2 linked regions of the Homo sapiens genome follow. The protein of the gene in region 1 binds, or shares a complex with, the protein of each later gene. Each region holds a gene or a part of one and is shown in the gene's direction. Other genes may lie near its edges.

Region 1 (7,023 bases):
CTGTGTTGCTCAGGCTGGAGTGCGTGGCTACTCACACAGGTGTGATCATAACAGCAGCCTCAAATGAACCGCTGGCCACAGTGCCCTGGGTAGCTCTAGGTGGGACTATAAGCACGTACTGCTATGTCCCTGTTATTCCTTTTTCTTTTTTTTTTTGAGACTGAGTCTCGCTCTGTCGACGGGGCTCACTGCCACCTCTGCCTCCCAGGTTCAAGCGATTCTTCTGCCTCAGCCTCCCAAGTAGCTTGGACTACAGGTGTGTGCTACTACGCCCGGCTAATTTTTTGTATTTTTTAGTAGAGATGGGGTGTCACCGTGTTAGCTAGTCTGGTCTCGATCTCCTGACCTCGTGATCTGCCCACCTCTGCCTCCCAAAGTGCTGGGATTACAGGCGTGAGCCACCGCACCTGGCCTGATGGTTGCTTTGAGATAAAATAAATTAATAGAAAGTATTTAGAATACTACCAGGCACATACCGAGGGCTTATATAAATATAGTTCAGCTTTGTTTTACTTTGAGTTTTAATTGTGAGTGAAATTGAGTATCCTTCATAAGTTATTTAATTCATTATAGATATATATTTTAATGAATTGCTTCTTTGTGTTCTTGGCTTATTATTTATTCATTTATTTTTGAGGCAGAGTCTTGCTCTGTTGCCCAGGCTGGAGTGCAGTGGTGCTATCTCAGCTCACTACAACCTCTGCCTCCTGGGTTCAAACAATTCTTGTGCCTCAGCCTCCCAAGTAGCGAGGACGACTGGCATGTGCCACCACGCCTGGCTGGGTTTTTTTTGTCTTTTTAGTGGAGACAGGGTTTCACCATGTTGGCCACACTGGTCTCGAACTTCTGGCCTCAAGTGATCTGCCTGACTCGGCCTCCCAAAGAGCCGGCATTATAGGCCTGAGCCATTGTGCCTGGCCCCTAGCGCCATTTTCTACTGGGACATTGGACTTACTGATGTGTAAGGATTCTTGGTATATTAAGGAATTTACCTTTTGTGTTTCCCTAGCAACTAATGATAAGCATTTTTCATGTGTGTATTCTTTTTTTTTTTTGAGATGGAGTCTTGCTCTGTCACCCAGGCCGTGGTGCAGTGGTGTGATCTTGGCTCACTGCAAGCTCCGCCTTCCGGGTTCACGCCATTCTCCTGCCTCAGCCTCCCGGGTAGCTGGAACTACAGATGCCCGCCACCACGCCTGGCTCATTTTTTTGTATTTTTAGTAGAGACGGAGTTTCACTGTGTTAGCCAGGATGGTCTCAATCTCCTGACCTGATGACCCACCCGCTTCGGCCTCCCAAAGTGCTGGGATTACAGGCATGAGCCACCACACCCGGCGAAGTTTGTTTTCTTATCATGACAGCCATTCAGATATTTAAAGGCAGGTTTCATGTAATGGCAGTTTTCTTCCATCCCTGCACCAATTAAACCTTTCTAGTTGCCTCAACTGTATTTCATGGGTTATGGTCTCCAAGCCACTTTGTATCATTTGCACAGATTTCTTACAGGTTAAAGGCATTGTTTAAGTTTAGTCCTCAGCACACCGTGAGATAAACATTTGCTATTTCCACCTCAGCCTCCCAAAGTGCTGGGATTACAGGTGTGAGCCCCCGCGCCCAGCCAGTGAATTAGTTTTGTTGTTGTTGTTCTTTTAAACAGAGTCTCGCTCTTTTGCCCAGGTTGGAGTACAGTGACATGATCTTGGCTCACTGCAACCTCTGCCTCCCGGGTTCAAGCAGTTCTCCTGCCTCAGCCTCCTGAGTAGCTGGGACTACAGGCGCCCGCCACCACGCCTGGCTAATTTTTGTGTTTTTAGTAGAGACAGGGTTTCACCATGTTGGCCAGGCTGGCCTCGAACTCCTGACCTCATGATCCGCCCGCCTTGGCCTCCCAAACTGCTGGGATTACAGGCATGAGCCACCACGCCTGGCCTAGCATTTTAGTGTTTAGCAGCCACCACTAGACGTAGTGTAATATAGTTTGGTATGGGTCTTTTTTATGAAGTCTCTTTTGACTATTGATTTAATTGAGAACCTCTGCAGTCATTAGCCCCTCTGGGCCTTTTTTTCTCATCTGTGTAATGATGGGTTTGGTAAGAAATCAAAGGAAGTATCTTCATTTTCTTATAAGAGGGTAAAGGAAGTCTGTATATATTTGTGTGTATAGACTAGTATACAGTTACACAGATGTATACATTTGTGTGTTTATGTCTACAAAAATAATGTCTATTTGTATCTCCATCTCCATTAAACAGTTCAACTGTTTAATCTTCAACAAACAATTCATTGCCAGTCTTGTTTCATTTTTATCCTCACTAAAGTAAATTCAAGATGTTGTATTTGATTCATAAATATATTTTTTTAACAGATAAGGACTCCAAAAATATACAATTTTGGCATTTTTTATGTTTTGGCTTTTGAATAGACAACTTACATGCAGTATAAAATTCAAGAAGTATGAAAGTCTTTTCTTGTTCCTTATCCCTTAGTCATTCCATCTCTAAGAGCATCCATATCTGTACATAATGTAGAGCTGCCTCATTCTTTTTAACAACTGCATAGTATTCAGGTGTGTTGCTATATGGTAATTTAATTCTTTATTAATTGGTATATTGTTTATGAAAGCAAAAACCAGGAAACAGTGTTCTATTGAGTTTCTTGTTACTTATGTAATTTTGTGTTCGTGGAAAGTTATTTCTAAATACTTGTAAATGAAACTGCTGGCTTCAAGAGTAAGTCCTTTCTTTCACATGTACATTTTTAGTTTTAAAAGATATTACCAAATCTTAACCTGTTAAATTACATTAAAACCCTTTGGAGGCTGGACGTGGTGGCTCATGCCTGTGATTGTAGCACTTTGGGAGGCAGAGGCAGGACGTTTGCTTGAGCCCAGGAGTTCAAGACCAGCCTAGGCACCGTAGTGTGACCCTGTCTGTTAAATAAAAAGGGGAGTTAGGCAGGTGTGGTGGTGCACACCTGTAGTTCCAGCTGTTTGGGAGTGCTGCTCAGGAGGCTGAGGTGGGAGGATCACTTGAGGCCTGGAGGTCTCTGAAGCTGCAGTGAGCTGTGATCACACCACTGTATTCCAGTGTGGGTGACAGTGAGATCCTGTCTTGAGGGCAGGAAAACCTATTGGGTAGAATTAAAAATTATGCAGTGAATCTGTCCATGTAAAGCATCCCTCTCACCTGTATTTGATGATGCTAATTGAGATTTGTAAATAGCTTTTCTTAAATGTAGATGTATTTTGTAGAAGTAATTTTATTGTTTGGCATAGGGTATACATTTTGTCAGTGTTTTTCTACAAGTAAATGTTGAGGGAATTAATAATACCAGTTGGAATCATATTTGTATCTCATTTGGAAAGGTTGTAAAAATGTTCTGATAGTAAAAATTGAAGGCAACAAAAATGAATTCTCCACATACCAGATGAATAGGCAGGCTGAGGATTTATTACTGGCTGATATGCATAAATAGCCACTATTAGCCATTTAACTAACACACCAGAACTACTGCTAAAAATTCCCTTGAGATTATATGGCATTTAGGATTAGAAGAAAGAACAGAAATAGCTAGAGAAACCTGATCCTATGGACAGGTTTCTGGATAGAACTAGCATACCTTATGGGCAGCCCTATCCCAGATAAATAAAAACACTGGTAGAAGGTTTTTATTAACTGTTCAGTTGGTTTAGGTTTTACTAAATGATTTTTAATTTAAGCATCTTTATTTGAAAAGCCCATAATACCCCTAAGAAGGTTTGGCTGAGTCATTTACATGTCATTCTGAATGGATTCAGTTGCTTAACCCTGCTGAAATTTCTTGTGAGTTTACAATTTTAAGGGACTTGGTTGCCTGAGGAAAGGTCAGTAGAAGGCATGAGAGCTATACACTGAAAAGATAGGAGAGGAAATGTCTGATATGTAAATGTTAATTTCTTCACAACTTAAAATTATTTGCAGTTCTTCCAAGATTGATCATATACTATTGATTAACCACATATATGTTATTTATTAACTTTTATGTTGATACCACTCATGTTTTTATCCTTTGACTTATTTTTACAGATAAAGTGGAGAATTTTCATGAAGAACATGAAAAGAATAGTCACCATATTCACAAAAATGCTGATGACAGTACTAAGAAACCCAATGCAGAAACTACAGTGGCTTCTGAAATCAAGGAAACAAATGATACTTGGAACTCCCAGTTTGGGAAAAGGCCAGAATCACCATCAGAAATATCTCCAATCAAGGGATCTGTTAGAACTGGTTTGTTTGAATGGGATAATGATTTTGAAGATATCAGATCAGAAGACTGTATTTTAAGTTTGGATAGTGATCCCCTTTTGGAGATGAAGGATGACGATTTTAAAAATCGATTGGAAAATCTGAATGAAGCCATTGAGGAAGATATTGTACAAAGTGTTCTTAGGCCAACCAACTGTAGGACGTACTGTAGGGCCAATAAAACGAAATCCTCCCAAGGAGCATCAAATTTTGATAAGCTGATGGACGGCACCAGTCAGGCCTTAGCCAAAGCAAACAGTGAATCGAGTAAAGATGGCCTGAATCAGGCAAAGAAAGGGGGTGTAAGTTGTGGGACCAGTTTTAGAGGGACAGTTGGACGGACTAGAGATTACACTGTTTTACATCCATCTTGCTTGTCAGTTTGTAATGTTACCATACAGGATACTATGGAACGCAGCATGGATGAGTTCACTGCATCCACTCCTGCAGATTTGGGAGAAGCTGGTCGTCTCAGAAAAAAGGCAGATATTGCAACTTCTAAGACTACTACTAGATTTCGACCTAGTAATACTAAATCCAAAAAGGATGTTAAACTTGAATTTTTTGGTTTTGAAGATCATGAGACAGGAGGTGATGAAGGAGGTTCTGGAAGTTCTAATTACAAAATTAAGTATTTTGGCTTTGATGATCTCAGTGAAAGCGAAGATGATGAAGATGATGACTGTCAAGTAGAAAGAAAGACAAGCAAAAAAAGAACTAAAACAGCTCCATCACCCTCCTTGCAGCCTCCCCCAGAAAGCAATGATAATTCCCAGGACAGTCAGTCTGGTACTAACAATGCAGGTAAGAATTTAAAAAATATGTATAATAAGTACAATAGTTCCCCCTTACCTGCAGTTTCACTTTCTGTGGTTTCAATTACCCAAGGTCAACCATATTCTGAAAAGAGGTGAGTACAGTATAATAAGATAAAGATCCCATTCACATAACATTTATTATAGCGTATTGTTAAAATCATTGTTCTATTCTTAGTCATTGCTAATCTCTTACTGTGCTTGATTTATAAATTAAACTTTATCATAGGTATGTATACGAAAAAACATAGTATATACAGGTTTTGGTGTACTATTCCTGGTTTCAGGCATCCACTAGGAACTGGCATGTATTCCCTGTTGATGGCTGGGGGGGCTACTTTAAATGTGTTTTTCAGGCTTGAATCAACAGCTGCATAGTTTCTTCCTAGATACTCAAGTTTAGCTTGTTATATTTATTAAAAGTACCTGTTAGAACCGTAAATCACCTTATCTAAAGGTACAGCATTTCAAGTGTTAATGATCAGGTCCCAAGTTGTAAGGAACCAATTTGTAGATTGGAGAGTCTTCATATTTGAGTTTTAATTTAACCTTTAGCACTTGAGAATTTTAAAGCATATATGTGTATGGGGCAGGGACACCAAACATCGTGATGTTTCCACTTGACAAATGCAAATGCAGTGAAAACATAGATTAGATTTTGGGCCTTTGGAACTGTACTGATAACAGGTGGTTATAATGAGGGAAATACCAGAAGATTAGAATTTAAAAACTCTTTGTGGTTGGCTAAAAACTAATAAACATTCAAAACACTCTCAAACCCTCCTAAGTTGGTTTAATAAAATTGAAAAGTGCCAGGTAAGTATGCATTCCCTCTTAACTGTGGAAATTTAATTTGTGCCGAGATTGTAGACTCAGTAGTGACTAAGGGTCCTCAAGGAGTTCAGTCTCCACTGTGAGAGACAAACAAAAGAAATAGGTTAGCTCTGCCATAATTAAGTCATTACCTGACAAGGGCTTTGTGAAGTGGATTGACTATCTAGTGAGGAAGAATTTGTGAAAGCTTCTAGGATACATGGTTTCTTAACCAAATATAGTTTTTCTGGATTGGTTTACATATTAAATAAAGCTTTTTTCCTGGTAGGGCCACAGAAGTGTCATTATGGTAAATTAGAATTACAGTAGTATTTTGAAATACAAATTCTCTTGTAGAATATAAGTCATTCTTGAGATTACCTACCATTTTGCTTTATTTGGCCTGAAAATAGTTTTGCTTAATTTATTCTTCAAAACTAGACATACACAGGAGTACCCCTAGGGGCTCACCCCTGCCTCCCCCGAAAAAAAAGAAAAAAGAAATACATCCAGTGTTGTCTTTGAATCTTTTCTGGAGACTGGAAATTTGCAGCAGCCTTACTATAGTCACTTAAGATCTGGCTAGGCAGAACAGCTAGGCATTTGTTTCCTCAGTAGAATGATAAATACTGCTATACAATACCAGCGCCCTTGTCCTGCTGTAGTTTACTTATAAGCTTTTATTCTAACCTGGATAGCAAGTTATCCCCTGCAATTGAGAATCTGTGGCTGAAATTTACATCTTGTGTAATACAACTTTTAAAGATGTAAAATGTGAAATTAGACTCCCTTTGAGAAACTTGAAGTAGATGCTAAATAACATTTGAAAATTAGAGGCCATTTGGTTGATCTACCCAAAGTTGAAATTTGAGTCTTCATACCATAAGTGAAACAGCAAAAAATTTTAAGCATTGGGATAGAGAAGAGTCTTTCTATGTTTCCTATTTTGTTTCGCTTAGAAAAAGATACATATTTTTAACCAGTTGGGAAATAAACTGACTCTTTGGTTAGTTGTGTTTGAAGACCGACAAATCATTAAACTTTGTTATATTAGGTCATTTTAAATCTCTTGCCAAGGATAACTGTCCTCCTTTTCTGGTGTTTTAAAT
Region 2 (7,993 bases), on another chromosome or scaffold:
TGTTAGAGCAAAGTATGCTTCCTACGTATCCATGAAGAGTAAGTATTAGGAGTCAATTTACTTGGAATAAGAGGTGATACAAACTTGGTTCCATATAGAGTGAGCTACTACCCTATGCTCAAAAACAGGCTGCTTGCCTAGAACAGAAACGTGAAACTGAAAAATTGTTTTGGAGTTTTTGGCCATCTTACACTGGAATGCTGATTTTTAAATTAAAAAAAAATTTTTTTTGAGACAGAATCTTGTTCTGTTGCCCAGGCTGGAGTGCCATGGTACGATCACTGCTTACTGGAACCTCTCCTCATCTCAAGTGATCCTCTCTCCTCAGCCTCCCGAGTAGCTGGAACTACAGGTGCATGCCACCATGCCCAGCTAACTATTTATTTTTTATAGAGGGAGGTCTTGCTATGTTGCCCAGGCTTGTCTCAAACTCCTGGGCTCAAGCTATCTGTCCACCTCAGCCTCCCAAAGTGCTGGGATTGCAGGAATGAGTCACCATGCCCGGCCTGTAGATTTTTCAAATAGCGCAAAAGTAAATAACATTGATTAGTGATTGCATGTGAATATATGTGAAACATATTATATTGAAGGAATTTATACGCCTTTGCACAAATATTCAAAGCAGCAGTCTAAATTCTCCTTTGTCATTCTCCTTACTTTTCAAGTGAAATTGCTCTTGGTTCTATATCTCTTTATTATTTCCAGAAGTTGAACTGATGATAAATGCTTTCTTAAACCCAAATCTCTCTTTGGATGATAATGCAAGCTACGATATTTTGTGTAAAAATTTCTGACATCTATCTTTGGAACTCTTTAAAAAAGTTAGATGTATCAAACATATTCCAATATAGTTTCTGAAGATCTAGTTTACAGAAATTTCCCAGATGATTTTGGTATTCTTCCACTCCACTCGAGTTAAGAACAGCTGCCCTGGGACTGTAGATGAATGTGGCATCCTTTCAGGAATATTTGCATTGTAAAGAGGATCACAGGATGGGCACAGTGCCTCATGCAGGGGATTAATTGTGGAGGGAGAAATTTGAGGCACCAGGGGCTGAGTCTTGGATGAGGGTGAAGGAAAAGAGCCCGTATACCATCTTTCAGCAGTAGTGATGTCATGAATGAAGGATCAACTTCAGGGGCTTGGAGTTTATCAAAATGCCTCACCAGTTTGCCTAATGCCTAAAATATCACAAAGCTAATTTCTGTTGGGCTTAGTTTCTCCTAATGGATATGAATGGGTTAGTGTTTTTTTTTTTTTTTTTTTTGAGATGGAGTCTCGCTCGGTTGTCTAGGCTGGAGTGCAGTGGTGCGATCTCCGCTCACTGCAACCTCCCCCTACCGGGTTCAAGCAATTCTCTGCCTCAGGCTCCCAAGTAGCTGGGATTACAGGCACCTGCCACCACACCTGGCTAATTTTTGTATTTTTAGTAGAGACGGGGTTTCGCCATCTTGGCCAGGCTGGTCCTGAACTCCTGACCTCGTGATCCACCTGCCTTGGCCTCCCAAAGTGCTGGATTACAGGCGTGAGCCACCGAGCCCTGCCTAACTTTTTCAAGTAACACAACCACATTCCAACATGTTTTCTGAGAATCCAATGCCTTAACCCAATAAATTAGTCTAGTGGGAATTTCAGCACTGTTGCAGGCTAACAGGGATCATATTTTTGTCTTGACTAGCCTTTGGGACATACCTTGAATTATGCTGAACCGGTAATGTTTGTCTAGGTAGGGCCCAGTCTTATCATTTACTAATTAGCTGCCCAGTGTGCTCTACTATGTATAATATGATAAACATTTCACCATATTTTGGAAACCATGCTGTAGTGCAGCAAGGCTGTACTCAAAATGCAGTAGGGGCCATAGGGGTATATTTAGGACTGTCCAGGTTAATTGTGTGCATTCCTGATGTCTTTCAACTTGCTAACCTCTTTAACCTCAAATTTGGACTCTATTAAAAAAAGCCCAGGTAACTCAAATATGAGTGATGTGGCAGACTGAATAATGGTCCCCTTACAATATCCATGTCGTAATCCCCAAACCTTTGAATATGTTATGTTACATGGCAAAGGGGAATAAAGGTCACTAATCAATGGACCTTAAATTAGAGATTATCCAAGTGGGCCCAATATAATCACAAGAGTATTAAAAGTGGATGAGGGAGTCAGAGGAAGAGCTGCGGTGACAAAAGCAGGTCAGAGAGACGCCATGGAGCTGGCTTTGCGGATGGAGGAAGGAGGATATGAACCAAGGGATCTGGGCAGCCTCTGGAAGAAGGAAATAGTAAGAAAAGGGATTCTCCTTTGGAGCCTCCAGAAAGACACACAGCCCTGACAACACCTTGATTTTAGCCCAGCGAGATACCTGTCAAACTTCTGCACTCCAGTAAGACAATAAGTTTGTGCTCTTTTAAGCCACCAACTTTGTGATGATTTGTTATAGTGACAAAGTAAAATTAGTAGAGGTGGGAACTACATTTGTGGTTATTCATAATCAAAGACAATTCTCCTAACCATTTCTGTATAAAACCAGCATTTGGACATAATTCCCACATAATTTCTCTTTCTTGGTGTAGAAAGCATTCACAACTGAGTTTTGAATGGTTCACACTCTTAAACTGTCTTAAACAATGTTGTGTTATGTTGCTCCTAATGAATTGCAACTTGGCTATTTTTAAAAATCCCAAACACAGAAGATTATTTTTGTTCAAATATCAACTTTAGATTTTAGTTTTCCCAAACAATATTGTTTTAAATGAAGGTTTATATTACTGATTTCTGTAAAGCCACTTGCAGTCATATAAAAGTATGCCCTTTTGTTAGAAACTATGCCTCATTAAAGCTTTAGGGTTTTTCCTCTGTCTGTCCTAATGGTAATTGCCCCATTGACCCTTACAATGTAGCTATTTTGAAGGCTATCTCCTTTCTGCCCACTCTTTTCTTGGGCTTAATCCTGTGGTGTTAGCAGCCTAACGTGGGCAATATGTATTCCGGGCCTCATTGAAATTCAAGGCATCATTTTATAAGAGAGAGGGTTAATGGTGAAACTGGCAAAACTGCTCACAAAGTTGACGTGACACCTTCAGCCCTTTCAGGACTCACTGCCATATACAAGATGTAGAGTGACATTCTTAAACAATTCATACATCCAACAAAATATTTACTGAGGCTTCCAGGTGTCAAATAATGGGGATAAGAGCACTGAATAATTTATACAAAAACTCTTAGCCGGGCATGGTGGCTCACGCCTGTAATCCTAGCACTTTGGGAGGCTGAGGCAGGCAGATCACGAGGTCAGGAGATCGAGACCATCCTGGCCAACATGGTGAAACTCTGTCTCTACTAAGAATTACAAAAAATTAGCTGAGAGTGGTGGTGTGTGCCTGTAGTCCCAGCTGCTTGGGAGGCTGAGGCAGGGGAATTGCGTGAACTCAAGAGGGAGGTTGCAGCGAGCCAAGATCGCGCCACTGCACTCCAGCTTGGCGACAGATCAAGACTCCATCTCAAAAAAAAAAAAAAAAAAAAGAAAGAAAAAAGAAAAAAAAATTCTTGCTTTCATCCTGGCTTTCTTCTGAAACTTTCTGGCTTCCTGGCTTTGGAGGTTTGGGAATTGAAGAAAATAAAGTAAAAAACATAATAAAAACAACCAAAGAGGAAAGGTTTTTCTAGATCTAGACATCCTACTCTCCCATACAAGATTTATGTTGATGGAACAACGATGTAAAATAAGAAAATTCCTGAGATAATTTTAAAAAGAGGGCAGAAAAAACTCATAGTAGACTTCATCGAGGAATGTATAAAATGGGTAGAACCTGGAGTATTCAGTGGCAAAATCTTGGACACAGGAATACAGTAACACAACATATTGGTCTAGCAAGCACTGGAGGAGACTGAGGCGGAATTGTCCAGCGAATCCCACAAAAATGGAAATGAAGAGGTCTCAGTATCTCTAGGTGCCCGGGTCCGATGGAATACCGATGTACATACCTTTTCTAACACAGTAGCATTAGTTTATATATCAGCATTACCTCTCTTTTGTTTCAGTTGATAAGTATCCTACTGTAATCCATTCATTCACACTTTGCTTGTTCATTGTTGAAACAAATTCTCCCTGGAACAAAATTCTAGTAACCAAATACATCATATCAGGGGAAACTTCCTTACAGCAGGGATGGTATTAAAGTAAAAAGAGGAGGAAGTCCCTTCTTCAGCTCTGGCAGGGACCCGGCTGGGGAGGAAACCTTCCCGCAAGGTAGGTGATCTGCTGTGGTGACCAGGCTAAACCCACTCTACAGCTGCAGGAGGGACTGGCATCCCTTAGAGGTGAAGAGGGGAGGAGACCCACCTCCTGGAATGTGTCCCTGTGGTCTCCAGATGATTTCTTCCTCTAATAAGGACAATTCTGCCAAAGGAATGGAATGCTTCGTCACAGGCTCAATTACTCTGTCTCCGCCAGCCTACCACCTATAAACAATTCCTCAAATTAGGAAAGCGGGGAGATTTAATAAAGACATAACACGTAAAGTGTAGGAAAACTATTTGTATGGCATTCCGAGACGACTAGGTCAGAGTTAACAAGTAAGGAGCAAAGTAGTTAATAATACCAATTCTGTTTACCCATCACAACACCTGTGCTGAATGTCAGGGTTTAAAAAAATCTCCCAACCTTTATCTAAAAAGATAGGGCTACGTAACAATCGGTGTGGTTTTTGTCGGTAGAGGTCTAGGAAGCCGCAAGAGTAGTGGACGCCTTGACAGCTGCCCTTCTCGCGGGCCCCGCGGCGGCGTGCCCGTGTGGTTGCGTGCGCGCGGACGGGGCGGGGCTGAGGAGGGACGTGCGCGCGCGCGGACGGGGCGGGGTGGAGCTCGGAGGGCGGACGCGCTCGGGGCCGTCTGGTCGGCAGGGGGCGCTGCGCACCCATGCCGCGCTCTGCCTGCCCCCGGGTGCTGTCCGCGGCGGTTCGATTGGAGCAGCCGCCGAAGAGCGCTTGGCGCCATTTTGAAGCGGAGAGGAGGAGGAACGGCAGGGCTGGCTGCGGAAGGGGAGGGGGGGGGAGAAGGCGATTGGATGCGGCGGCGGCGGCGGATCCCGGAGAGCCCCGGAGTGAGCGGAGTAGCGAGTCGGCAACCCGGAGGTAGGAAACAATTCAGTTAACGGAAAGAAAATGTCTCTCTTCTCTGGCTGCGGCGCTCCATTTTTCAGCGGCCGCCACTGCCGCTGTGTGCGTGTGTGTGGCAGGGCTGAAGCGCCGCCCGCCTGGGTGCCAGGCGCGACTCGCCTCCCGGCATCGGGGGCTGCAGCGGGTGGCTGCCTGGCGGTGGCCCGGGGCGGGGGTCGCGGGGCGCGGGCCGGCTGCGCGGTGGGGGTGGGGAGGGCCCCGCGGCCGGCGCGCGCCTCCACGCCGCGGGTTCTGCCGCAGCCTCTGGAAAATTAAACTTGCCGCTCTGATCCCGGCCGGGGCGGCGGCGGCGGCGGGCGGTGACCTTGCGCGCGGGCGGGGGTCTCGGGGCCGCCCGGCCGCCCGCGCCCTCCCGCCGCCGCCGTCGCCGCCGCCGCGCCCCTCCCCCCGCGCCCCGGCCGGCCGGCGGCTGTTTCCCGGGCGGCAGGCGGGCGGCGCGGTGCTCCTGTTGAATCCTCCCGCGGGCGGGCTTCTCCCCCTTCCGGGCGAGGGGCGGGCGGGGACCGCGGGTCGGGGCCGCGGGCGCTCTCGCCCCCGCCGCCGGGTCCCCGCGCGCCGCCTGGCCTCCGCTTCGGGCCAGGGGACGGGCTGAGCGTGACATTTTTGCACTGTCCCTCGCCGCTCGCCGGAGGGAAATCGCGCTCACCGCGCCACCCCGAGTGGTCCCCGAGCAGCCAGTTGAGGAAGAGCCCAGCACTGGCGTGGAGGGACTCCTCCCAGGCCACAACTGGGTTCTAGCTTTCCTTTCAGAAGGAACGGCGGGGAAAATGGTGTGCAATTGTGACTCGTTATTGTTTTTACACTGTTATTTTAATGTTACTTTAAAAGTTTTCGGTCCGGAGAAAAACCTTGTTTGTTGTTGTTGCTGCTACTGCTGTTGGTTTTTGGTAGAGACGTGAAAGCTAACTCTTAAGTAGCTCGACAGTTATTTTGGACGAATGACTGAAACCAGAAACGCCGCCCCTCGCCTTCGGAGCTGCAGGCTGCTGCGTTCCTTGCCGCGGACGGGGCGAGCTCCGGGAAGGGTTGGTAGAGCAGCTACCCACCCACTCCACGCGCGTCTTCAACAGCCTCTCTCCCCCAGCGAGGGTTAACCCTTTTTTATGTCGAAGAAAGTGCTTCTCGTACTTTTAATAAGAGGTGATGGATGGGCAGTGGTGCCCAGACTGATCCTACCCTGTTGATGAAATAGTTTCGAAAACTTTGGGTATAGCCTTAATTTAGAGGGTTGGTCTGCGGTGTGGAGAGAGTTGGGTAATCCTATACTATCTTCCTAATGAACTTCAAAAACTCAAGTTGTGTTTACATACAGGAGGCGAGCTGTAAATAAATCGTAATTACCCAATGCTTGAACGGCAGTATAGTCATTGTTCTCAGTTAACACATCCCGAGTTCCCAGACAGAACGTTTTTTATATTAACTCATGTAGTGGTCAGGTAAAGTAATTAAAAGCCACAAATATGGACTTGAAAGACAGCTCTTCATGCAGTACACATGTCTGAGATGTTCGCATCTTTAGGGACAATAAAATGAGTATTCAATGGTGTATGCAGGTCAGTTCGTGCAACAATTAATCTTGTATCTCATGGTGATAGCAGAAAACCTAATTAAAATTTGTAGTGCTGAATATGTAGGTGAAAATTACATGGGAACTTTTATGTGAAGATAGATTTAGTCTCAGAAACTTAACTGTAAAAACACATCTTAAGAACATTATTCCTTATAAATAAAATTTGTACTTAATATACATTTACAAATATGTCTAACAAGATGCACTTTAGACTTTATAAAAATTACCAAAATAGTGACTTTTTCCTCCTTTTTCTGATGGTTTTAAAAATTGTTCTCTTCTCAGCTGGCGTTTACTTAAAGGTATATTTTAAATGGGAAGGTAGTGTTTGTCTTGGCCTTTTTTCTTTTTTTCTTTTCTCCTTGTTTCGGTTAAGGCTGATTTTCCCTATATTAACTTTTCTTTTACAGCAGCTTTTGTTACTCTTGTAGGCTTTGTTCTCTCGTGTTATGTCTCTCCCCTCTCCCCATATTAGAGAGAGATGTGGTGATGATAGTGATTGTTGTTAGGAGATGTTTGTATTAAGCTTATTTGTAATAAGATTCTACCGAGTTGGCTGTTGGATGAAAGTTGTTTAAATTGTTCTGCAGCTTTGTTTAACGAAGTAACATTTTGAGCAGTAGGCTTTATCAATAATTTGTTAGGCCTAAGATAAAGTGATACTCTGTATTAGGCAGGGCTTGCCCTGGAGAGGGGTGCAATGGTAGAAAATACCCAAAACTTTGTGGGGAAGGAATATTTCGGGAAGCTGTATTCTTTCTGCTTTACCTCTTGGGAAATTTAGAGACTGCCTTAGAACTAACAGGAGTGCTCAGTATGATTTGGCATACGGACTCTTGAATGACATGGACTGTATATAACGTATATTGGAAAAGAATACATTTGTGTTTCCTCTGTTAGTGTTAAAGAGCAACAAGAAAACTTAAGGATGATCTCCAACTCACTTATACATGAGAAATTAGGTTCAGATTTTAATTTCATTGATTTATCTGAGGTCACAGTCATATTCATGTGGTGGAACTGGGGCAGCCCTTAAGATATCCTGGAAGCTTAGAAGTTTCCCCATTGTCTTTTTTTGTTCTATTCAGGATTTAGCAATATTTATTAATAAAAATTCAGGGTAGTACATTACCCTCCATCCCCTTCTCACCTTTTTATTCATTTAACCAAGAATAAAGTTTTGTGGTTAGCCGTCTGTTTCAGCGTCTGGTTTTTAATAATTTCTGTTTAGGATTCAGTCCATTT

The links. Proteins that work in one complex are often made in the same cells at the same time.
Region 2: the proteins of WAPL (region 1) and PDS5B are in contact, whole or in part, in a crystal structure (PDB 5HDT), measured with the Homo sapiens proteins. Residues at the interface, in NP_055860.1 of Homo sapiens: Lys7, Thr8, Tyr9, Ser10, Arg11; in NP_055847.1 of Homo sapiens: Gln47, Phe88, Ala92, Pro93, Ala95, Trp137, Val138, Lys139, Ser140, Asn142, Ile143, Phe145, Glu146, Glu187, Gly188, Asp189.

Annotation. Positions count from the first base shown.
Region 1 is NC_000010.11:86,497,785-86,504,807, reverse strand, and holds part of WAPL (wings apart-like protein homolog), read left to right. Parts: intron 1-4,064; coding exon 4,065-5,090; intron 5,091-7,023. UniProt on the Homo sapiens protein: Regulator of sister chromatid cohesion in mitosis which negatively regulates cohesin association with chromatin. Involved in both sister chromatid cohesion during interphase and sister-chromatid resolution during early stages of mitosis.
Region 2 is NC_000013.11:32,581,461-32,589,453, forward strand, and holds the start of PDS5B (sister chromatid cohesion protein PDS5 homolog B), read left to right. Parts: upstream 1-4,991; 5' UTR 4,992-5,133; intron 5,134-5,808; exon of another isoform or gene 5,809-5,948; intron 5,949-7,993. UniProt on the Homo sapiens protein: Regulator of sister chromatid cohesion in mitosis which may stabilize cohesin complex association with chromatin. May couple sister chromatid cohesion during mitosis to DNA replication.